Linked DNA regions of Homo sapiens: all the other regions are reported to be linked to region 2. Evidence: microRNA targets listed by miRTarBase, many of them from high-throughput screens and not tested one by one. Region 2 holds a microRNA gene; each other region holds the end of a gene's coding sequence.
The links. The annotated mature microRNA hsa-miR-502-5p reads AUCCUUGCUAUCUGGGUGCUA and lies in region 2 at 1,665-1,685, shown strand. An mRNA with a match to its seed (bases 2 to 7 or 8) in the 3' UTR can be bound and repressed. Matches are read on the target gene's strand: a 7mer-m8 pairs with bases 2 to 8, a 7mer-A1 pairs with bases 2 to 7 and ends in A, and an 8mer does both.

Region 1: the mRNA of ETV3 is a reported target of hsa-miR-502-5p. Seed matches in the 3' UTR shown: 7mer-A1 at 2,945-2,951.
Region 3: miRTarBase lists DIAPH1 as a target of hsa-miR-502-5p. Seed matches in the 3' UTR shown: 7mer-A1 at 1,392-1,398.
Region 4: the mRNA of TRAF2 is a reported target of hsa-miR-502-5p. Seed matches in the 3' UTR shown: 8mer at 3,366-3,373.
Region 5: the mRNA of BHLHA15 is a reported target of hsa-miR-502-5p. Seed matches in the 3' UTR shown: 7mer-m8 at 3,048-3,054.
Region 6: miRTarBase lists RNF122 as a target of hsa-miR-502-5p. Seed matches in the 3' UTR shown: 7mer-A1 at 1,069-1,075.

What each region holds. Positions count from the first base shown.
Region 1 is chr1:157,121,611-157,125,713 of GRCh38, forward strand. ETV3 (ETS variant transcription factor 3) reads right to left here. Exons shown (of 5, transcript NM_001145312.3): 5 at 1-4,103. The coding sequence ends at 3,231. Among named protein-coding and RNA genes, the nearest start is that of ETV3, 15 kb to the right of the region's middle.
Region 2 is chrX:50,012,949-50,017,051 of GRCh38, forward strand. It overlaps MIR502 (microRNA 502), which reads left to right and starts at 1,650; the gene lies at 1,650-1,735. All of the region lies in intron 3 of CLCN5 (chloride voltage-gated channel 5), which reads left to right. It overlaps MIR660 (microRNA 660), which reads left to right and starts at 293; the gene lies at 293-389.
Region 3 is chr5:141,513,283-141,517,385 of GRCh38, reverse strand. DIAPH1 (diaphanous related formin 1) reads left to right here. Exons shown (of 28, transcript NM_005219.5): 28 at 378-2,365. The coding sequence ends at 535. LOC124901091 (a long non-coding RNA gene) reads right to left here and starts at 378. Exons shown (of 2, transcript XR_007058971.1): 1 at 1-378. RefSeq lists enhancers at 97-722, 723-1,348, 1,975-2,600, 2,572-2,821, 2,601-3,226 and 2 more.
Region 4 is chr9:136,925,642-136,929,725 of GRCh38, reverse strand. TRAF2 (TNF receptor associated factor 2) reads right to left here. Exons shown (of 11, transcript NM_021138.4): 11 at 3,119-4,043. The coding sequence ends at 3,825. Among named protein-coding and RNA genes, the nearest start is that of FBXW5, 17 kb to the left of the region's middle.
Region 5 is chr7:98,212,242-98,216,343 of GRCh38, reverse strand. It overlaps BHLHA15 (basic helix-loop-helix family member a15), which reads right to left. Exons shown (of 2, transcript NM_177455.4): 2 at 887-4,088. The coding sequence starts at 4,034. The coding sequence ends at 3,465. TECPR1 (tectonin beta-propeller repeat containing 1) reads left to right here. Exons shown (of 26, transcript NM_015395.3): 26 at 1-1,720. Among named protein-coding and RNA genes, the nearest start is that of BHLHA15, 2.9 kb to the right of the region's middle.
Region 6 is chr8:33,545,359-33,549,358 of GRCh38, reverse strand. RNF122 (ring finger protein 122) reads left to right here. Exons shown (of 6, transcript NM_024787.3): 6 at 492-1,605. The coding sequence ends at 606. Among named protein-coding and RNA genes, the nearest start is that of RNF122, 20 kb to the left of the region's middle. RefSeq lists a silencer at 3,449-3,518.

The DNA.
Region 1 (4,103 bases), not on the chromosome of region 2:
GAAAGATTGAATCAAAGTTGTCTTCTAAACAAAATAAAAATGTACGTTCCATTACTGTTTACAAAACAAAAAGCACAAACATAATTATGGAATAAATAAAAAACAAGGGACAAACAGCCAACTGACTCTACCCACTTGGTGAGAAGTGATATACTTCAACTATTTTTTTAATGCTTCTGAAAGTTTCTTGGCCCACAGAGGACTAGGGTGCAATCATTCCCTGTGTTAGTGAGTTGGGTTTAATGCAGCTTCAAAATTAGGGTAAAGGGACTTGGTGAAATGTTTACATTAAATATTTCACTCCTACCCATTCTTCAGGAAAAAAGGTGAGCTCAGCAAGGCTGGATGCCATTAAGAGATATTTACTGTTTTCTTTTTCTATAGCTAAAAAAGCAAACTTTACACGAAGAAGCTCTTGATTAAGGAAATTTCAATAGATTCATATTTATAAAATTTTAAACATTTGGCACAGCAAAATTTGGAAAAAATGGGGGAGAAAAAATAGGTCTGGTTGTTGTCCCCCTTTTTCCACCTGCTGCTGGACAGTGATGAGATGCTCACAGAAGAAAAAGGCCTGGCTTTGTACCAGGCTGGCGACAGGTGCTACCAGGAGTGGGCTGAGGGGAGAAAAACTATCTCCCACTCTTTTGGCCCAGGCAATGTCAACGACTTCCACATTCCCTGGCCCACTTCCTGAGCAACCCCAGGTTCGGCTCTGTATAAGGACCCTCCCCTCCCAACCCCAACCCCAGAGTGCAGTGCAAATCAACCAACAATTTACTGGTGGAATGGCAATCAAAGGAAACAGTTAAACACCAAACAATTTCTTAAAGCCAAAAAATATTTTTCATGGAGTTGAACATTTTTCGAGTGTGTTTTTTTCAAGTGTAAAAGCAGTGACATTTTGTTCAAACAGAAGCAGCATCTAGGAATTCTGGCACTTGGGTTCTAGGGGGTTACAGGTATGCATCATGGATTCTTCTCCCTCGTATTTAAAAAGGCCTCGTGTTTCTATTCCTGAGTTCATACCAACACCTGCTAGCTCTCCCCTCTAGCGGACAGTGGGTGGCCAGCCAGCCTCCCTGGTTAGATTGGGCAATGCCAAGCAGACATCCCTCATTCACCTGCTGGGCTTGCTTTCTGATTCAGAGGTAAGTCGAAGTGCAGAGAAAGAAACTTACAAAAGCACAACCACCAAAGGCAGCCTGAACGGGGAGCCCTGTGCAGACTGAGTTGCTGGAGACTACCCTCTCAGTCCCATTCCTGGGGAAAGGTAGGTCACTCATGGAATTTGAATCAAACATGGGGGAGGACACCTGCCAAGCAATAGTATGATGGACTCAAGTCATCCCAGGCCATCTACTGTCTCCCTCACCTGCCCTAACCTTTTCTGAGTCCCTCCCTCTCTTGTGCAAGCACTGTAGTTTAAAAAGGAAAAAACACCCCCCACCATTAAAAGACAACCTTCAAATGTTACTCAGTATATAAAGTTTGCTTAGGCTAAGGTGGAGTCAGAAATGTCTCTAATTGTAGACACCATCTCTGTGCCACCCTTCCTCTCATCGGATATGGAGTGATTTCTTCTCTCGCTGCTGCGACGCAGATCTGAGCCACAGTCAGGTACCAATGTACACGACATAGGCACATGTGCAAACACAAAGAAGGTGGGCTGCTGCTTCTTTCTCTCTGCCCCTAGTCCAGGCTCCTTTGCTTCACGTAAGATTAACACTTTCCCATTCCTCTGAAGTTGCTGGAAGGACATTTCCCAGGAAGAAACAATTCCTCACTGCCTATAAACTGTAGTCTCATGTGGGATAGTCAATTGAACATGAGAATCAGAACAATCTGGGCAAATGGGTATGGCAAGAATGGGAACACCACAACAGGACAGATGCCAACTCTCATTCATGCCAGGCCTTTTGGCATCTGGGTGCCTTCTGTGTCTTCTTTCCACCTCTTCCTTCAGTCTCAACATCCACTTGTACCCCCAGCTACCTCCCATGTTTCCAGGTATCATTGGCTCTTAACTCCCACAAGCCTGCCTTTTGGCTACCCATCCCAACAATATCAAGAGGGAATGACTAAGTATCAGCTAGAAACTTAGCCATGTCTCAACATTCCTGGATTATCTGAAAAGCTGTCGATGCCCTTTTACAGGTTTATGGTGACAGACCCGTATCATCTTAAAGTATGTTCATAGTTAAGGCTTGACTTAAGAAAATAAGAGAACCAGACATAATGGAAAGACCTCTTCAATAATGTTGTCATGCCTCTCAGTGAACGTGCTCACAGTCACACTTGGTTTGGCTCCCCAAACCCACAATAGAAAAGGAAAAATGAGTATTTTGTTTTTCATCTGTTTTGTATTTAAAGGCATTGGGTTACTTCCTCCTGCCCTCTTTTCTTCCCTGAACAAGAGTTTACAACTCCTCATGGCTTCTTAATAGGTGAAGTAGGTGAAAAGTCTGAGAAGCTCACAGCAGGGTTTGCCGTCCCAACTATGCAGCTGAGAGGTCGCCAGCTCCTGTGCCTTCCCAGCCCCACTATAATTGGCAGTATGTTTGTTCATGTTTCCTGAAAACATTTTCTTTAAAAAGGAAAAGAAAAAAATGCCAAACAACACCAACCAAAAAAAAAAAAAAAAAAAAAAGAAGGAAGAAGAAAAAGAGCAACATCCAAACATTCCCCAAGCCCCACCCCAGTAAGTCTGAGATTATCTTATTCCTTCCCTGAAATAATTATAAAGAAGCATTTCAGGCAAAATACTTAGTATTAATGGTCTCTTACTGCTCAACCTCCCAACCATGCCCTTTTCCCTTTTATGTGTATCTCTTGGAGTAAAATAAATTCATTAATGGCTTTCCACATACAAATACAATAGAAAAGAAAGAAGTCTGGAACCTGACTATCATGGGACCAAAAAGTATCTTGGCCCTTTGGGAGTTTCCTTGTCAGAAAGTATAAGCCTCAACAGGAAATAGAGGCTCCTTCTCCTTTGAGTTCAATACCCTCCCTGTGTCCTACTCACCAGGAAAATAAGTGTGTTCATATCCCACCTAATTTACAACAGAAGATAACCCCATCCCATCCCCAAAACATAAAAATACAAGTCTATGCCCCTAGAATGATCAAACCAGTTTAACTCCCTCCCCCCCACCCTGAAATCTTGCTACATAAATACATGTATGTATTTGATTATAGTATAAACAGCTCCTAATCCACTTCCAGTTCTAAGCATCAGCAGCTGCTGTTGCCAAGCCCTGGGGTCCTGACCCATTCCAGAGAAACTTGCCACTCTTGCTCAGCTCTCGGGCTTCAGGGTCATCATTCCAGCGCCGCTTCAACCGAAGCTTGGGGGGCATCAGTGCATCTTCTTTCTTCTCAGGTGCACTGGGCTCTTTGCCAGGCCTATCCTCACTGTCTTCAGTCACCTCCAGAGGTTCTCCACTTGGGGTGCTAATGGGCACAGAGGGCCAGATGGGTGGTGCAGCAGGACGGGCAAAGATGGTGCCTTTTTCCTCTTCAATGGTCCTGCTTGGCACAGTGCCCTCTTCTTGAGTGTGCTCCTCCTTCTCTCGTGCCGACTGCCTGAGGCTCTCAGGATCCTTTTCAGAGGCAGGTTCCACCTTGATTCTTGGGGGAATAGAAGCCATGGTGGGCGTGGTGACTGGTGCTGACTCCTCGCTGCTCTCAACCCTCTCCCGGTTCTTCCGCCCAACTGGTGGGGGCTGCAGCTTGATGGAGAACTGAGTTGACTCCTCAGGATGCATTTGGCACTGCAGTGGTGGAACCATGAGCCCTGGGTAACGGGGAAAAGTCCGAGGACTCAGATGGTAGTTGAACACAGAACAAGCTTGAGAATGAAGGTAGTGTTTCATTTCCTCAGGGTTGAAGGAGAAGCAGCTGCTGCTGGTGAAAGGGCTCAGGCCTGGTGATGGGCTATAGGAGAAGATGGTGGGAGTCAGGGAGAGGGCTGGTGAAATGGGGACATTAAGGACACCTCCGCGGCCAGGGATTGGAGAGACAGCGAAGGGACTGTGGGGGTCAGGGTACATCCCTGGCCTAGCAAACAGAGGAAGCATTATGTCAGGCTTGCGTTTCTG
Region 2 (4,103 bases):
CCCAATGCCGAGTCCATGCAGACTGTGGCAGGGAAGCCATCATTTCATTACTGTCTCCACCTCCTCCATAACCACACATTCAGTGAGCACATGAGGCTAAGTGAACACACAACAAGTACTTTATTAGGGAATAGACTTGGCACTGCTTCTCCAGGCGTGCACCTGACACTTTAATCTCAATCTGTCTCTCTCTCAATCAATCAATCAATCTCTCTCCTCTCTCTCTCTTTCTCTCTTTCTGTCTTTCTTTCTCTCTCCTCCCCCACCCCCCTCCCATGTGCAGAAGAATGAACTGCTCCTTCTCCCATACCCATTGCATATCGGAGTTGTGAATTCTCAAAACACCTCCTGTGTGCATGGATTACAGGAGGGTGAGCCTTGTCATCGTGAATCTTCTGCTGAACAATCCAAGTAGCCCGTGTTTATTGCGCACTTTTGATGTGCCATGAGCTGTGCTGGGAGTACCCTGCTAAATAATGGACAGTGTCTCTCTCCGGGACTTCCTATCTAGTGGAGGTATTAGGTGCCTAGACTTCCCCAGGCCTAGGCAACAGACACAGGTGTGTCAGGAATTGAGCCTTCTCATTCTCTTATGAATACACATGCTCACATTGTGCATGCATGTGCACACACACATGTGTAAGTGTAGAAACATTTCTGTACAAAGCTGAAAGGAAGGAGCCTTATTATCTAAACTTGCCTGCAAGTTTCCTTGCCACACACACTCAGATGCATGCCTGGTGTGCAGGTGCCTGGACTTTGATTTTTGCTTGCCCTCTCCTAGCCTTGCAGCCTAGGCACAAGTGCTGTCTTAGCAGTGCAATGGGCTTGTGCAAGGATACCAGCTTGTGAGCCTTGCCTATGTGTAGGACAGAGCCTGTCCATCCCTTCTCTTTCCTTTGTTCATTCTTTCAGTCAGTCATTTGTGTGTGCATGTTTTTGGTCCATTCATTTATTCATCCCTTTAACAAATTTACTGAATTCCTGCTGTTTGGGAATGCCACAGTAAACTAACCTGTCAGAGATGCCGACCTTACTGTCTAGCAGGCTCATGGAGAATAAGCATCCTCATGTCATCCAACTTCCTGTGAATACATGGGCTCAGGGTGCCAGAAATCAGGCTTTTCTTTATTCCCTCCCACAGACATGGGTACCTGTGCAAATATATGTGGTGTGCACATCCTGAGCCTGCTGCTCTGCTTCCCCTTGTATCCTTGCCACCTAAATGTGCATGCTGTCTCAGTGCAGCACCTATTCCAGGACTCTCAGAGGGGCCTTTTTCTGCCCATAGACAGACAAAGTGCCTGTGAGTCACACTTCCTCCTCCCTCTCCTTCCCCTCTACCTCCCTTTCACAAGTATTGAGCACTTAGTACATGCTAACGCTGTGCTGCCAGGGCAGTGGGCATATGGTATCACACAAGATGGACTTGGTTCTTGCCTCAAAGAATATGTGTAGGAGACTTGACTTTTTGTCACCTAATATTCCTGCACGTGCTGAGTTAGTGTGGGCCACAACATGGGACTTCTTATTGACACCCTCTCCCAACATATACACAATGCAAGACTCTCATTCCTGTTCTCACACAGAGCTGTGTAACAGAGAACCTTCTCTGCTTCGAGCACGGCAGGTGCCCAAGCCTTCTGCCCTGCTCCCCCTCTCTAATCCTTGCTATCTGGGTGCTAGTGCTGGCTCAATGCAATGCACCTGGGCAAGGATTCAGAGAGGGGGAGCTCAACTGTACCAAGAAGGACAGAGAGCCTAGACATCACCCCTCCCACCCTCCCCTGTCATAGTTTTTGAGTGATGGGTGTGTGTTGGGGAAGCACAGAACAGAATAGTTAGGGACTTCAGGTGCTCTGGTGGGCTTGTCTGTGTATTAGAATAAATGTCCTTATTAAATAATGTCCATGTATGCAGGTATCCAGAGTGAGACAGTGAGCTTTCTCTGTGTTCCCCACCTGCTGTCCACACACAGGGTGGTGGGCGGGAACCAGAGCCTTCTGATTTGCTCCCTCACTTCCTTCCAACCTAGATGTGAGTGCTGTCTCAAGTATTAAGCCAAGGATTCAATGAGATGGAGCCTTGCCTACCTATATGTATATATATGGACTGAGTGCATATATGTCTCTTTTCTTGCCTTCCTATATCTTGAGTTTCTAGAGTGTGACAGATACTCTTTTTAGTGTTAAGGATGCAGTGACAAACGAGAGTCAAAATCACTGGATGTGCTCTCTGATGGGCAGCTTTAGAAGAAAAATTCAGACGGGCACAAATGATGGGGGCCAAAGAGAGAGTCTTCCTATTCCCCCCACTCTGTCCCCTCTGAGGACAGGGAGATGCACACATTCATGAAGATTTACACTTACAGAATGTATAGGAGTTTGAGCTTATAAGCTGCCCTTTATCTTCCAGGACATCCTGAGTAGAACTGTGAGCTGCCTTTAGATGTCTATTACAGACTCTTCTTGAATTAGAGGGGGTGAAGAGCAAGGGACCCTTCTTATTGCTGATCTTGTATGCACCCCACACAATATGGAAATGAGAACAGCCTATATCTTTATATTACCTTACTTTAGTCAAATAGAGATGGACTATACATGTCTCTGTTTCAGTCTATCGCTCTCTCTGTCCGTCTCTCCATCTCTCTCTCTCTCTCACCTAGGGAGTACAGGTGCCCATGATCTGATTCACTCCCCTCCTCCCATCCTTAGCGCCTGAGCCTGAGTGCTTTCTACTGTGACCTCAGCAGTATTCTTCAGTTGTTACTCTCTTCTTAGCTAAGCTGATCTATTCATTCCTCCCCATCTTATCATTTTTGCTCATTGCCCATTGCAAATTTATAGTGTTCAGGTCAGCGTAGCAATACAGTATTATAAATAGTGGTGACAGAGACAGAAAGAGACACACACTCCATTTCAGTCCTCAAGTTCTTAAACATTTGGGACTTATAGATTCTGATCCTTGGTCCTTCTTCTCTCCCAGATTCTCCCAATCTAACCTGCAGTAAAGATTCAGGTTATTTAATATGTGCTCCTTATCTTTTGTATACTCTAAAATCTCATTTTGGTTACTGCTCAGCCTTAGTCTTATTTTATCAGACTTTATACCTCTCTTGATGCCCAAGACTAGCAGCATCAGCATCCTCCAGGAACTTGTTAGAAATAAACTCTCAGGCCTCACCTCAGACCTAGGTAATCAGAAAGTCAGGGGTGGGGCCCAGCAATCTGTGTTTTAACAGCCCTCCAGGTGATTCTGATGCACACTGAAGTTTGAGAACCATTGGTTTAAATGACTTAAAATTTCTATTCTGTCATTACTAGGGGGATTTCTGTGTTACACAGGATGATTTTTAGCATCAAAATTTCCTTATGTGTAAATGGCTCTTTTAGTTTCTTTTCATATTTTAAAAATTCATAGACTTTTTTGAGCAGTTTTAGGTTTACAAAAAGATTGAATGGAAAGTATAGAGTTGTTATATATTCTCGAGACACCCCAGTTTCCGCTATTAACATCTTGCATGAGTGTTGTACACTTGTTAAAATTGATGGGCTAATGTTGAGACATTATTATTAAATAATAGTATAATTATAATGTATTATAACTATTATTAAATAATAGTTTAAATATAATTATTAATGTAAACCATAGTTTACATTAGAGTTCCCTCTTTGTGTTATATACTCTATGGGTTTTGACAAGTGTATAATGACATGCATGACCATTATAGTATCATACAGAATAGTTTCACTGCCCTAAAATTCCTCTGAGTTCTGCCTATTTATCCCCCCTCCCCCACCCTAAACCCCTGGCAACCGCTGATCATTTTTCTGTCTCCATAGTTTAGCCTTTTCCAGAATGTCATATAGTTAGAATCATACATTATGCAGCCTTTTCAGAATGGCTTATTTTACTTAGCACTATGCATTTAAGGCTCCTCATATCTTTTCATGACTTGATAGCTCATTTCTTTTCTTTCATTTTTTTCCCCATTTATCCCATATAGTAACCAGCTTATTTCTTTTTATCACTGCATAGTATTCCATTGTCTGGAGGCACAAAGTTTATTTATCCTCACCCACTGAAGGGCAGCTTGGTTCCTT
Region 3 (4,103 bases), not on the chromosome of region 2:
CTAAACTTTAGTCTATTTAATTCCAACATCCCTATTACGAGAAAATAGACTTTGAATACTTCATCTCTCCTTAAGTCACATAGCTAACACTTCAGCCCAGTTCTGTCTGTCTGTGTTCAAACTTTTGTGCTGTTTTCACACAGGGAAGCAAGGGGGCAAGGCTTGCTTTCCTGTTGCACCACACTCTCTTACATTCTTTGCCACCCAACAATATATTCCACATGCTGGATCTCTGCCCCTTTCTTCAAAGTAAGGGCCTCTGTGAAGTGGCCAAGGTAGTCATGTCTGCATGGCTTACGCTGATTATCTGCTGTAGAGTTTGAAAGAAATTAGAAATGAGGCCTTCCATAGACAGAATCTCTCGTCTTCTCTTGCAGCCAACAGGAAGGCCGGGTGTGCAGTCACATCTCTGCTAGCTTCGGAGCTGACCAAGGATGATGCCATGGCTGCTGTTCCTGCCAAGGTGTCCAAGAACAGTGAGACATTCCCCACAATCCTTGAGGAAGCCAAGGAGTTGGTTGGCCGTGCAAGCTAATGTGGGTCCTGTGACCGCGGCAGCTCCTCAGCGGAGCCGCAGACTGTCCTGCCCTGCAGCATGTGCCTAAAGGCTCAAGGGGATATTCCTCTGGGGTGGCCACTCCCACCACCCTGACCCTGTCTTTCTCTCTGGCCTGCTGCTCTCTCAACATCACATACAGCTTCAGCTGCCTGGAGGCCAGAAGGAAAGGGCAGTGCAGGGGAGGCCTGAGCCCGACTTAGCCAGCCCTGGCTGTTGTATTACCAAAGCAGGGTCCATGTTTGCTGCCTTAACCCTGTCTCCTCTCTGTTACTCAGAGGGCCTCATCTCAGACAAGGCCCAGCCTGCTTTTTCTCAGCCCTGACTTTCTAATGGGCTTTCCCCCCTAGGTCAGTCTTGCTGGATTTGTGCTTTTCTTTTGTGGTTTCTCTGGCCCTGAGAATAGCATGGGGCTTGTAAACCTTTGGGCTAGATCCCTCCTTTCATTGCTGTTGTCTCTGCTCTTCCCTCTCCTGGCTGTGGTTATTTATTATTAGTGGTGTGGCACTGGGAGCTGCTCCTAAGGAAGCAGGGAGCAAATCCCACCTTTACCCCACCTTCCTGGGAAAGGCCTCCAAAGCAAAGGATCTGGACCAGTTTCCCTGCTGTGCTGTGGCCCAGGCCAGAGCCTGTGGGCAGGCAGGCAGGGCATAGCGACAGTGTGGGACCTGCCCCCAGCTTCTGCCACGCTTTATGCCCTTGCCTCTCTGGACGCTCTGCACCAACCCCAGGCTACTGAGCCACCTTCCCTCCTCATGCCTTCCCTGAGCTTTGGTGCATCTCATCTGGACTATGGGTTGTACTGTGACCATCCCAACACCTCACCCTCTGTCTACAAGGAAATGGGAGGTGGAGCCTCCTGGCTGAGAAATTGTTTTGCAAATGGATCTATTTTTGTATGAAAAAAAAAATTTTTTTAAAGAAAACTGTTCCTTCCCCCTTTCCCCTCCATAATGTAAGAAGCTTTGGTGGCAGGTTACAGAGTTCTGGGATTTCTTCTCACAGGCCCAATCCTGAATGTGCCCCTGGACCTTCTGGACCCTTGAGTCCAAGGCAGATCCTCTCTCCCAGGGAATCCGACACAGGAGGAACCCCTTCTCTGGTTGAGCTGGGCCAGGCCTAAGAGTAGCAGGAACTCTAAGACCACAGAGTTTTTTATAAATGTATAAATGTATCAAGCCAAATGTGCAGATGCTAACTGGACATTCTGGGGAACTGGGCACCAGGAGTGCCTTCATACACTGTACCCCAGCTCTCTTCTAAAAGAGAAGTGGGTGGGCACACTGAACTGTTTGGTGGCCCCAACCACAGGAAGCTGCAATTCTCTGGCTTAGGGTGATACTTTTGCCCTCCTTGTGCCCCTCTCAGCTTTCCATCCCCAGCTAGGAAGAAAGAATGGCACTCTTGGGCTTGGCCCAGAATTAGAGTTATTAGAGCAAGAGAGAGCTTAGGAAGCATGAGGGCAACTATAGTGAGGCCTTATTGCCAGGAGGGAGGGTTTTGGTTGCTGGCGCTTGTGTATAAAGGGGCAAGAGCAGCTCCTTTGGACTATTCCTGGGAGGACTCTGATGCAGGGCGTCTGTTGCTCCCCTGGGTCACCTCCTCCCTGCTCGCTGACATCTGGGGCTTTGACCCTTTCTTTTTTAATCTACTTTTGCTAAGATGCATTTAATAAAAAAAAAGAGAGAGAGAGAGAGGTGTGAGGGACAAAATGCAAACCTATTTCCCTTGCCTCATAGGCTTCTGGGATGTCATCACCTCCAGTTTGTTGGTTTTGTTTCCAACTGTTAATAAAGCATTGAAACAGTACTGCCTTACAGCTTCCTGTGTGAATTTCTGAGCTGTTTTCTTTTCACTCTAGTCCAGGCTCCTCTAGTCTTTCCTGCCTCAAATCCCTGGTTGACCTGACAAATCACTGTGAAAAAGCTAAAGGTGCCAGACACTTTACTTGGGCACAGGGCTAGAGATGATTAATACATGGTGGCTGCTGCCCCACCAGAGCTCACCTCAGGGCCGTTTGGCCACAGTAAAGGAGTGGGCGCCTGGTTCAGCTCCCTGACTCTTCCACATTGCTGCTACTTGGTTTGGAGCCCTTTTTTGGAACTCACTTGGAACCTTTCATGTTCCCAGATGTCACGCAAGGTTTCCTGGCAGTACCTGTGTCTCTTGCTGAGGGAAGCATCTGGCTCCCATTTTCTCATCCCCTCTGCTCTGTTGGTGGCCACAGACCACATTCCAGAGTAGAGGGGTTTACCCTGGGGTGGAAACCTGAGCCTGCCCAGCAGAGGTTGGGAGCCTGAGGTCATGCTCCAGATGACTTGCCACTTGGAGCCATACTTGTCTGAGCACGTTATGACCTGCACAAAAAAGCCAGACCAGCAATGAGCAGGCCCAGGATAGACAGGGAGAGGCCTGGAGAGGACCACAAACCCATTCGGGCGGGCTCTGGAACTGGAAATAAAAGCCTTTTAAATAGCCCTGGAGCCTGGGCAGCTGCCTCCTCAGTATGGCCTGAGGTGTGGGGATGGGTTGCCTGCCGCCTCCCTCCCGTCCCCCCGGAGGCCACGCCTTTCTGGTTCAGAGCTTTATAGGCACACATACCAATTAGGGGACAAACCACAGCTGCTCACGCGCTCTGCCAGTCTGCTGCTGTGCCTGGAATAGAACCCAGGCGCCCGGCACCCCGCCCCTCCGCAGCCTGGCTCTGAGTAACAAAACCCTGCTTCCATCTCAGCAACCGTGCACACCACCCTTCCTCCCACGCTAGAAAGTCGCCCCCAGATTCTTAAGTTGGAAGGTTTGGTTCCCATGACAACAGACTTGAGCTGGCAGAATGGGTGACCTGGCTCTGGGAGCCTCCGCAGCGCGGAGGAAGCCGCATACCCTTGCTGACCAGCCAGATAACCGCAGTGGCTCTGTCTTTGTGTTCTTGGGTCCTTCCGGGTAGTTCCCCTTTTAAGTCCCCCTTCACCCCCAGCTCCGTGTTTTTCTGCAGCTTCTCTGGCTGCAGCAACCTCGGAATCCCACAGTGCTTCGAGGAGGCAGGCGGAGGGGGCGGGGAGATGGGAGAGCAGGCGAGTGAGTGGAAAAGCACCGACAGGAAGGAGGGAGGGGAGCTGAGTCTGCGATGGATCTCATTTCCTGCACGTCCTTTCAGTCCCCTTGACCCCCGCAAGAAGAGGATGAGCCCTCCAATTTCTTAGGCTTCGCTACGGAGATGTCAGCGGGAAGGCGAATTCCAGATGGGGAAACTGAGGCTCGAGCTGCAGACTTGGCTTTGGAAGAATCACCTCCCGCATTCCCTCCCACTCCCGCGGCTTTCCCAAAACCCCTAGGCAGCGGGGGTGGGGGTGCGGGGGCAAAGGAGAGTCTACCCTCCTCCCGTGAAGCCCTCCGGGGCGCTTCGGGTAGGCAATTTTAGTCAGGAAGGGGCGGGAACTAACGAAACGTCCTCTCCCCTCTACCCAAGGCGTTTGCCCGGCGCCAACCCGCCCCCGCCCGCGCCGGGGTCTCCTCTTCTGCCTGGAGACAGCCGCAAGCTTAGACT
Region 4 (4,084 bases), not on the chromosome of region 2:
TGTGAACATCCATGGAATTGAATGTTCCATGAACAAAACAAAAGAACAAATCAATTTTACTACGTGAAATTTAAAAATGTTATTAGGGGCCAGGTGCAACACCTGCAATCCCAGCACTTTGGGAGGCTGAGGTGGGCAGATCACCTGAGGTCAGCAGTTCGAGACCAGCCTGGCCAACATGGTAAAGCCCTGTCTCTACTAAAAATACAAAAATTAGCCAGGCGTGGTGGCTCACAGCTGTAATCCCAGCTACTCAGGAAGCTGAGGCAGGAGAATTGCTTGAACCTGGGAGGCGGAGGCTGCAGTGAGCCGAGATTGTGCCATTGTATTCCAGCCAGGAAGACAGAACGAGATTCCGTCTCAAAAAAAAAAAAAAAAAAAAAAAACACTTCCTGAGGGAGATGTAAGGTGACACAAAAGTTCGGCAATTCCTCCAAGAGCTGAACAAGCGGCCCAGCAGCTCTACTCCTCGGTATAAATATTCAAGAGAAATGAAAACAAATACACGTCCCCATAAAAACTTGTTCACAAATGTTCACAGCAGCATTTTCAGAGTAGCCAAAAAGTAGAAACCACCCAAATGTCCAGCAACGGATGAATGGATAAATAAGGTGTGGTGCATCCATACAAGAGATTATTCAGCCATTAGAAGGAATGAAACTCCAATGCATGCTGCAACACACAGGAACCATGAAAATATCTTGCTGAGTAAAAGCAAAGGCCACATTCACATGAATGTCCTGAGTAGGCAAATCTATAGAGACAGAAGGTAGGTTTATGGCTGGCTGTCAGGGGCTGAGCGGGAGGGAACAGTGACTGCTAAGGGAAGGTTTCTCTGCAGGGTGATGAAATGTCCCAAAATTAGGTAGTGACGATGGTACCTCTGTGGGTTTGCACAGAGCCTGTCACTTCCCCAGAAGGCCATGAGGCGGCTGGGCCAGGCCTGCCCACGGGGCTGCTCCAGAGCATTTTGTCCCTCAAGGGCCTTGGTCTGCTTCGTGGGAGCCTCTTGGTGTGGCAGCCAGTGCCTAGGGAATTGTTCCGAGTGCAGACCTCTGCCCCTTCTGCAGCCTGGAGCCCGATGCTGCTCTCACTGCGTGGGGGGTGCGGTCCTCAGCTCTTCCCCAGGTTCTCCAGACCTCCATCTCCACTGCAGGGAGGTGAGGGCCAGGAGGACCATCCGGCTGCTCTGGCAAAGGACCTCCAAGGTAGCTGCTCTGCCCCGTCTTTCAGTTGATCCACTTTTAGACTCTGCTCCATGCCAGGGCCTCCCGGTGTGGCCAGCTTCCCCCTCAGCCCTCTTCTGCTCAGCAGCCACCCACCAACCCACTTCCCACCTTCCAAAATGGGTTCAAATCCTTTGTGGGATGTTGGCTTCTTCCCCATCTTTGTCCCTGGGGGAGGATTTTTTTTTGGTCCATTCCTCTCATTTCACAGTTCCATTTCGTTTTAAGTGAGAAGAGATGACCTCAATCAATCTGTTTTAACAAACTGCAGTGACCCAGCAAAACCTGTCACATACAAACAAATCCCCAAATATAGAAGCCCAGTATGTTAAAGACAAAACTTCACAATCATTAGACGAAAACATGACAGTGGTTTCCAGCCTCAGGGAAGGTCAGGATGTTCTGAGTCGGTCGGAAATAGCACCATTCATAAAGGATAAGATCAGCTGATCATGTGTAAGGCTTAAGCTTCTGCACATCAGGAGCAACAGAAACGCAGTTCAAAGACACAACCGAGAATCCGTAATCAGGAATATCAGGAACTCCTACCAACCAGCAGAATAAGACCCAGACCAACAACCAGAAGAAAAATGAGAAAAAGACATCAACAGGCAATTCGCACGGGAGAGAATCCAAGGGAGAGGTAAGCGTGGTAAAGACGCCTGACTCCGCCGAGTCATCAGAGAAACGCACGTGACAGCGATGCCACTTCACTTCACACACAGCACGCTGCAGCATCTCAATTCCAACAACACGAAGCACGGGCAGGGATGGGAGGGATGGGAGTGATGGGAACCCTCCCCCTGGTGCTGGTGGAAGGACCGGATGCAGCCCCTCTGCAAAGCAAGCTGGCAACTGCTAAAAAGGGGAGGCCTAGAAACCACCAACCCTCCTTCCAGGTTGACAGGAGACCCACGAGAGCAGGTCTGGCTATCTCCAGTCACCAAACCCTGAAGACACGGGAAGAGACTGGAAGGTGCTCTCTAGGGAACTCACACACGGCAGTCAGAATCCACCATGTAGAGTGCCCAGCACAAGATGCATTAAAAGTAGCCAGGCTGAGTCAAAAGCCCAGCTACCTGCAGCTGACCCAGTGGATGGTTTCTGCATTTTTAATGCAATATTCTTATTTGTGAATACAGAAACGTACAGATGCAAAATTCTAAAGCCCAAAGAGAACCGGAACGCCTCAATTCCCGCCACGTGGCCTGGGGAGCTGAGGTGAGGCCGGGAAAGGGAACAGCAGGGCTCTGCAATGCTTGCTCTTTAGGCCCAGTACACACTCACGGAACACAGACAATGCCCGTCGGTCAGCTCCGTGCCTGAGTTATTTTCTGTACTTTTCTGTGGTCAACTTCTCAAACTACAGCAGTGCGTGAAGACGTCGAGAGGGGACAGCACTTTATCCTGGACCCCGATACAGATGCCCAGTAGGTCCCAGCACGGCTGCCCTGACACCGAGTGTGAAGCCGTGCCTACGCCTGCCTGCACTGTCCCAAAAACACACCACAGGGGCGGTGCAGCCAGGACCCTCGGTGTGGCCAGGACCCCCCGGGTGCAGCCAGGATGCTCGGTGGAGCCTGTGCACAGAAAGGCAGGACCAGGGCTGGCTCATCCTCATTCTGCTCTCACAGGAGTCCCTGGGGAGGCCCAGGAGAGGAGATGGACAGGGAAGAACATTCCAGAAGAGGGAACAAGGCTCGAGAAGAGGGAGCTTACATCAGGTGAGGAACAGAGAACACAGCCTGGCTAGCTAGAGAAGCAGGCAGGGGCTAGGCACCCCGTGGGGAGGGGTCTGTGAGAGGAGAGGCCAGGAGGACCCGCAGAGGGTCACCACTGCCAAGGCTGGAAGCCGCAGGCAACCTGGAATCAAATGGATGCCACTGACCACAGAGATTTGAATGGTTTAATAACTCTGTCTTCGTGAGCTGGATGGCAAGCTCTCACACTTTACCCGCAGGCTGTGCTGTGCACCTCCCACACAGTGGTCTGAGCAGAGGCGGCGTGGGACCAGACCCTCTCCCACAGCCAGCCTGGCCAAGGTGGCACAGACCAGAGCTCTGTGCAGACAAGCACCCAGGGGTCTAGGAATGCTCCCTTCTCTCCAGGGGCCAGAGGGGAGAACCAAGCTGCTCAGCCTTCCTTGCTCTGGCCAGCAGGAGGCCCTTCTCCTGGAGCAGCCCTCGTTTCTGCCTGTCATGCCCGAGGGACACAAGGCCATCCACTGTGCTCCTGCTACATGGGCACTGCTGGGATGTGCTCCCACTCTGAGTGTCCCCCACCCAGGGCCTCTCCCTTCACTGCACAGGACAGCAAGGGCAGCTTGTGCTGGGAAGCACCCGAAGACCCTCGGCCAATGCCACCACAGCCCTTGGCTAAGACCGTCTGCCAAGCCCCTCCGCAGTCTCTGAAATCTGAGGACTGGCTGGTGGCTCCTTCCCCCGTGACAGTGAACTTGGCTGCAGGCCGACACCCTCCCAAGCGCCCAAGCGCGGCCCCTGCCCACTTGTACAGTGAGACCCTGGCCCAGCGTGGTGGCCCCTCCGTGAGCCGGCTGTGCCTGGCTGCCCCCAACCCCCAGACACCAGTAGGGGGCAGTTAGAGCCCTGTCAGGTCCACAATGGCCTTGATGAAGATGGCATCGTCCCGCACGTAGGAATTCTTTGCCTCCATCTTGGAGACGGGGCAGAAGAGGGGGCAGCCGCTTGCGATGTTCATGTCGTTGACTGGCCTCTGAAAAGAGGATGAAGTCACGTCGGGCCTGAAGGCGTCAATCACGTGCTCCCGGTTATTCTGGTCGAGCAGCATTAAGGTCACCTGGAGGAGAGAGCCCCAGGGAGGGGACACAGGTCTGTGGG
Region 5 (4,102 bases), not on the chromosome of region 2:
TGTTGTAGGAGGGTGCAGACTGCGGGCTTCTGTGGGGAGCAGTACTACTGTGTCTGTCGGCAGTGGCCATGGGACCCTCAGCCCGTCCTGTACATGGAGCAGGGTGCACAGTCACCCTCCATCCTGTGGCGAGAGGCTGGCCCGGCCCGGCCAGGCGAGGCAGAAGGTGTCGGCCAAGTGGCCCCGACCCCATCCCGCAGTCTCTCAGCTGCTTTTTATTACCTCTGTGCCCCATTTGGGAGTTTGCTTCCTCCACCTGGACACTTTGCCCGGGAGGTCATCAGAGCCCAACCCCAGGCTCTGCTCGGTTGGAGAGGGGATGACTTCACCACCACCTGACCTTCCTAGGGTCCTGGTCTCACTGTCAGCTGGGGGTCCGTTGTGTGTATTTGTACAGTTTTGCTGTATGGGGTTTGTCACCCAAAAGCTGATGCTGAGAAAGGCCTCCCTGGGGCCCCTCCCGCGGGCATCTGAGAGACCTGGTGTTCCAGTGTTTCTGGAAATGGGTCCCAGTGCCGCCGGCTGTGAAGCTCTCAGATCAATCACGGGAAGGGCCTGGCGGTGGTGGCCACCTGGAACCACCCTGTCCTGTCTGTTTACATTTCACTATCAGGTTTTCTCTGGGCATTACGATTTGTTCCCCTACAACAGTGACCTGTGCATTCTGCTGTGGCCTGCTGTGTCTGCAGGTGGCTCTCAGCGAGGTACGGGGAGGGCGTCACCCTGCAGAACGGCAGAGTGACGCGTCCTCTCGCTGCTGAGCACCAGCTGTTTACCTGCCCTGCATCACTTCCTCGGATACTTTACTCAATAAGCATTTCCCCTGGAGTGTCCGTGCCCTGGTGTTTTTTATCGATACGTTGATTAAAACGCGTGGTTCCCCGTGTGCCTGAAGCAGACATTGCTGTGAAATCTTTTATTTTTGTTTTATGACACAGCATCAATTTCATGAATACTTTGAAAGGGCCATTAGAAAAAATAAGAGCCAATTTGGGTCATTTGAGAAACATTTTCAGCACAATTACAGTGGGGGCACGGGCCGTTCGGCTCCAGCTGGGTTTTCCCAGATGCAACAATCGCGGTTCTGGCTTCTCCACTGGTGGGGATGGGGATCGCGCCTTCGGAGCTCTCAGGGCGCCTGTCTGTCGGGGGCTGGGTGCGTCCACAGCCCCGGGGGATGGCGCGTGGCGTAGCCCAGGAACGGCATGTGGGTGGGTCTCTGACCTGCTTGTGCAGGGACTTGAGGGACCTCATCCCGATGGCCGAGGCAGGGGCTCCCCACGGGATAAAAGGATCCGGCCTGGCCTTGGGGTCCAAGAGGAGGGCCAAGGGAGTGGACCTGGCCCCTGTCCCCTCTCCTCCTCGAAACACTGGACACCCTGAAGCGAGACTATGGCTGCTGAGGATCCTGTGTGATGTGGCCGCGGGGCGTCCCCTCTGGCCTCAGGGGAAGAAGGACTGGGCGGCTCGGCCCAGGTCACCCTCTAGGAAGCAGAGGAGGTGCAGGTGCCAGTTCAGGGCAGAAAGAAAGAGCCACTGAGGCCATTGTCCTGAAGGCGGTGACCCCCAGGCACTCCTGCTGCCCCCCAGGAAGCCCTGGGCTGCGCTGGACACCGGGCCGAGTCTCCGTCTTCTGGACCGAGGCTCTTCTGGGCTTTCAGGCTCAGCTCGTCGGTCCATTCAGCAAGTTCAGGGGCAGACTGAGCCCTGCTCTGGCCATGGCTCAGCCGGAAACAAGAGCTGCCATGTTCGTAGCACCTGAGTACCCCCGCCGGGGAGGTCTCTGTCATCTCATGTCCCCGCTGGGCAGGTGCCCCACAGCAGGGGAGCCCTGGGCTCTCTCTGTCCCAAGCTCCCAGCTGCATCCAACCTCAGCTCACAGTTGTGGATCACCCTGACCTTCCAGAGTGCCCCTCCCAAGGGGCAGACCCAGCATCCTGGAGTCCCCACCCCGAGCTGTGCTGAAGGACAGCTGGGGCGGTAGGGCCAGGACCAGACCAGGCCTCTGACAAAGTCTCATCGAAATGAAACCAATGTGCCCGGGCCACCTTAAGGGGCCCTGACCAGGAAAGTTAGGCCTGAAGCTGCCAATGCCAGATCCTCAGGGTGTTACCTGTGTCCTTACGTGGCTAGGCCTGACCCCAAGTGCCACAACCCCCAACTTGGGGAGGGCAGGGCCACCTGGTGGGGACGGGCCAGCCAGAGCCCTTGGTCTCAGCTGTGGCAGCCACATCCCTGGCCCGGCTTGGCCCTGAGGGCCTTTGGGACATCTCTGGGCAGAGGCATGAGGGAGGGGAGAGTCCAGTAGCCAAGTCCGGCAGAGCCAGTGGGGCAGGAACGCCCAGCAGAAGGAAGCTGGGCTTGGGGCAGCAGAGACGTGCCAAGCCACCAGGCCTGGCCATGAGGATGAAGCACCTGGGCGGGGGAAGGGACGTACCTGCCACCCCAAGGCTCCACCAGGCAGAGAGACCCAACGGGCTGCCAACTCAAACCAGAACCCAAGCACGTCATAATGTCCTACAGACAGCATGGTGCCAATTATATGATAACCCCACATCAGTGAGAATAAGTAACGGCGGTGGCAGGGGCTGGGTGGGGGGCACACTCGCTCCCCACACAGGCCAGGGCTGAGCAGGAGGCCTCAGAGCTGCTCTTGGGGAGCAACCCAGGGCCTTGGGGCTTCTCTCCCATGCCCAGAAGGGCTGCACCAGGAACACCCAGCCCTGTCTCCTGCTCCAGTTCCACAGCACCCCTCACACCCTGCCCCAGACCCTCCACAACCAGGCACAGCCTGGAGTCAACACATCCAGGAGCCCCAACTTGGGAGGAGGGAGGAAGAGACTCCAGCCCCTCCCCACCATTCAACTTTTAAGGATGAATTGGAGGTCATCTGATTAGAGTTTCTGGCAGCTCCAATCATCTCTGATTGGCCCCACTCCCCGAGCAGCCTTAGGCTCTGCCGGGCTTGTCCCGGGCCTCAGTTTACCCCAAATGAGGATGCTGAGCCCAGGCCCCATGTAGCCCTATAACAAAGGTTGGAGAGGGGGTCCTTGCTGGGGCTTTGGCCTTGGAAAACCTGCAGGTAAACCTTTTCCTGGGATCTCCCCTTGCCCAGAAGTCAGGGTGAAGAGACGTTAGTTCCAAGGCTAAGGAGGCCTTTCAACTCGGGCTGAGACTGCCTGGCTCAATGAAAAATCAGGATCCAACTGGGCCCTACCTAGAGGTTTGGGCCTCACGCCGCTGTCCAGGGCCACAGCCGCAACTAGGCCACTCGCTGGTCCCCAGCGGGGCAGGAAAAATTGCTCCAGGGAAGTGGCTGAATGTTCGGGGGAAAATGGAACCGCTGAGGCCGTGTCCTTGTGGGGTGTCACCGCCCATCTGGGGCTCGTGGCTTGGAGGGACTGGGGCTGGGAGGAGCAGGCCAGGCAGCTGCGGCCACCGCCACCCCCACCCAGGACTGGGCGCTAGGTGCCCTCTCGGAAGCTGTGGATCTGCGTGGAGTACCTCTGCAGGTGGCCCTGGGGCTGGGCCTCCGTGGCCCCCAACGCACCCCCAGCCACCTGCTGCTGCTGCTGGTAGTGCTGGTAGAGCTTGGGGCCCGGCCCCTCCAGGCCTGGGAGGCGGCTGCTGGACATGGTCAGGATGGTGGCCGTCAGCGATTTGATGTAGTTCTTGGCCAGCGTGAGCGTCTCGATCTTGGAGAGCTTCTTGTCCGCGCGCACGTGGGGGATGACTTCACGCAGGGCCTGGAAGGCGTTATTTAGCTTGTGCATCCGCTGCCGCTCCCTCTCGTTGCTCTCCAGCCGCCGCTGGATGCTGCTGTCACGACGGCCACCGGGCCCGGAGGGTCCTGGCCGCCTGCGCCTGCCCTCGCCCGGAGCCCTTGCTGCGGCCCGGGCCGGCCGGCTCCGCAGACCCTTGGCCGGCTCTGGCCCCGGGTTCGGCAGGGACCCGTCGGGCGTCCCCTCCCCGGGGGTGGCCTCTGTGTCCTGCACCGGGGCCCGGCGCCGTGGGGGCCGGTTCTTGGTCTTCATGGCCCTGGACTGGCTGTCCTAGGAGGTGGCGGCAGGAAGGTGAGGCCCTTGGAGCTGAAATCCAGAAC
Region 6 (4,000 bases), not on the chromosome of region 2:
CATCTTCTGGAAACTTCCAGTCTCTGCCACTTTCTATTTGCCCCTTATCCGTGATGCCCCAGGTCCTACGTGAACACCGAGCAAAGCCCAGAGGGATTAGGTTGGGACAGGGGTAGGGATATTCTTCTTTTTTTTTTGAGTTGGAGTTTTGCTTTTGTTGCCTAGGCTGGAGTGCAATGGTGCGATCTCAGCTCACTGCAACCTCTGCCTCCCAGGTTCAAGCGATTCTCCTGCCTCAGCCTCCCAAGTAGCTGGGATTACAGGTGTCCACCGCCATGCCTGGCTAATTTTTGTATTTTTAGTATAGATGGGGTTTCACCATGTTGGCCAGGCTGGTCTCGAACTCCTGACCTCAGGTGATCCACCTGCCTCAGCCTCCCAAAGTGCTGGGATTACAGTTGTGAGCCACCACGGGATATTCTTGTTTTGAGAGACAACTGGAGCAGCGTGGTCTGTCTGGTTAGAGATTACCATTCCTCATTTGTTCTCAGGTGTCTGGTGAAATGGCTGGAAGTTCGCTGTGTCTGCCCCATGTGTAACAAGCCCATTGCTAGTCCCTCAGAGGCCACGCAGAACATTGGGATTCTATTGGATGAGCTGGTGTGAGTGCTGCCGCTACACCGAGACCTGGAGAAGACCTCTTGCCTCATGGATGTCTGGTCCCTCTGCACAGCTCCAACCAACAGGACTGTAGGGTGATGACGATCACTTTCCCAGTGATGAGAAGGGTGGTCTAGGACTGGGCTTCTACCCTCAGTGCAAGACCAGTGCCAGATGTGCCCCCACTTCCTGCCTCCTGAAGCCTTCTTCCCTGCTACTCCATGCTGGTGGCCTCACCCATCAAGACCACTGTCTCCTGGTACTGGACTATCTACCTGCCTTGTCCCTGTTCTGGGGGAAGGTGTCCACCCCGATCAAGAACATGGAGAAAGTCCTCTTTCAAGGCTCCCATTAGGAGGATGAGCTGCCTTGACCCAGAAGGGATGAGACGGGCTCTTACCTCTCTACAACCTTCCCTCCCCTTCCCACTCCTTCCGGAGTAAGGTTAGAAGGGAAGGAAGGAAAGATCAAGGAACCAAGCGCCTCCACGGGAGGCGAGGGAGGCTCTGTATGAAACAGAAGAGCAGGGACATAAAGGAAAATGTCAGTGTTTACATGGGACCTATGGAAACAAAGGCTGGCGGGCGCCAGCTGACTCCAGAGTAAGAGAGGGCCCTTCCCCTGCCAGGACCCACGGTGCTATCCATTCAGTCTCTTCCTCAGTTAATCTCGGAGCTTCCTATTCCATGTTGAGGTTTGTGGGCCCCTCTAGAGGAGGGCTAGTTCTATACTTAAATTGATTCCCAGGGGCCTTTTTTTTTTTTTTTTTTTTTTTTTTGATCAAAAGGGGTGTGGGGATGGGGGTGTCTACGGTTAAGCAACAGATACCTCCTTCCCTTTGTAAATAGTATTTTTATACTTCATCCTCGCCTCTCAGGCTTTAGATACGAAATCTCCAGAATGGAAGGGGGTGGGGATTTTCTGTTCCTCCCTGGAGTGGGTGAGGGTGGGAGAAAGTTACATATTTAAAGAAAAATAAATTTAATAACAAGTTTCTCTAACCTACTTTTGCTTGTGGTTGTGGCTGCCTGGCCCTTTTCTGCCAGTAGAGGGAAAAAAGTTCTCAAACTGCCTCTTCTCACTTTTCCATACCCAAATCAAACACACACGCATACACACACACACACGTTCCTGATCCTTTTTAAATGTCTTTACTTTTATCTTTCTGAGGCAGGGTCTCACTCTGTCATCAAGGCTGGAGCATAGTGGCATGATCACAGATCACTGCAACCTCCCCGGCTCAAGTGATTCTCCCACCTAACCTCCCGAATAGCTGGGACCACAGGCGTGTGCCTGGCTAATTTTCTAAAATTTTTTGTAGAGACTAGATCTCCCTATGTTGCCCAGGCTGGTCTTTAACTCCTTGGCTCAAGCAATCCTCCCACCTCAGCCACCAGAGTGCTAGGATTACAGATGTGAGCCACTGCGCTCAGCCTAAAAGTTCCTAATCCTTAGGAACAAAAATCGATCTTAGGTTATTACCTGAACAATATATGTTAGGATTAACACAAGGTACATTAAGACCTTGCTAAACCAGGCTCCGTCTGATTTCTAGCATATTTTTAAAGGAAGTTGGTATTTTCAATCACAGCATTCCGTCGACTAAGACTTGAAACTAAGAATTCTACTTGTAATTTAAGCAATTGTCAGTGCCCTTAACACAACTAGTCACAACTAAAAAGGTCTACCTTTTAGTTATACCATAGAGGTTGCTACCATAGAGGCTCTGATCTCTCTTTTTTTGTTTGTTTTGTGGTGACAGAGTCTCTGGAGAGCAGTGGTGCAATTCTGGCTCACTGCAACCTCCACCTCCTGGCTTCAAGTGATTCTCCTGCCTTAGCCTCATGAATAGCTGGGACTACAGGCATGTGATACCACACCCAGCTAATTATTTGTGTATAGTAGAGACAGGGTTTTACCATGTTGGCCAGGCTGGTCTTGAACTTCTGGCATCAAGTGATCCATCTGCCTTGGCCTCCCAAAGTGCTGGGATTACAGGCGTGAGCCACCGTGCCCACCCCCTTTTTTTTTTTTTTTTTTTTTTAATTTTTGAGGCAAGATTTCACTCTGTCACCCAGTGTCACTGGAGTGCAGTGGCACAATCATGGTTCACTGTGGCCTCAAACTCCTGGGCTCAAGCAATCCTCCCACCTCAACCTCCAAGCAGCTAGGACCACAGGCACACACCACCATGCCCAGCTGGGTTTTGTATTTTTTGTAAAGATGGGGTCTCACTATGTTGCCCAGGCTGGCCTCAAATGCCTGGGCTCAAGTGATCTGCCCACCTCAGCCTCCCAAAGTGTTAGGATTACAGGGGTGAGCCACTGAGCCCAGGCCTCTTATTTTTTCTTAGCTAGTAGCTGCAATTGCTGACAATTGCTGCCACCTCTAGCAATGTTGCATGGTGATGCTTTATGGTCCTATGTGCACTCAGACCTTGCATCCATGCCCTCCAGCTTTGTTCTGTCCATGTCCCAAGGAAGCACTGAGTCAGCAGGGGGCATGCAAAGTGCATTAAGAGTGTTGGGAATGGCCTGTAATACCAGCACTTGGGGAGGCCGAGGCAGGCAGATCACTTGAGATCAGGAGTTTGAGACCAGCCTAGCCAACATGGCAAAACCATGTCTCTACTAAAAATAGGAAAATTAGCTGGGCATGGTGGCGCACCCCTGTAACCCCAGCTACTTTGGAGGCTGAGGCACAAGAATCACTTGAACCTGAGAGGCGGAGGTTGCACTGAGCCAAGATTGCACCACTGCACTCCAGCCTCAGCCACAGTGAGACTCTCTCTCAAAAAAAAAGTAAAAATGTTGGGAATGATTTTCGTGACCATAATAAGCATGGAGCAGCTGGGCCTATACTGCCCCTATGTGTTGAACAAGAGCGTTTGCTGAATAAGTATACTGTTCTGGTGTCATAGGTAAGCAGGAGATGCCCATACACCCAGAGGTTCCAGGCCCCACAGGTAGGTGCGATGCCTTCTCACCCCTGTTGTTGCACCATGGAGGCTGTCAGCACAGTGTGTGCTCATGCTGGGCAGTCCCGAGGTGCAGCTGGGGCACCTGGCAGTCCTGGTGCAGTTGTTGATACCTGTCTTGATGGAGTTCTTTGCCCAAGGGTACACCTGTTCTTACCACCTATTTTTCCCTCACTGAGAGGTAACCCCTGCTCTTCCTTGAAGCCACCAGCTCCAGCTTGCTGCTGCCAACCCTATGGAGCCTGATCCTTTCTTTGTTGGGGGTACCGCATCATCTCCCAGCAACCCTCAGCTTGCTTTAATGTGGGAAATAAAATGTGTTTCCTAAGCAAAACACAGAGCCTTCCCTCCAGCTCCTGCTGCAGCCTCATGGTAGATGCATTGCTGGGATCAGATGGGGAAAGTATGATCAGTAGGTTGGCT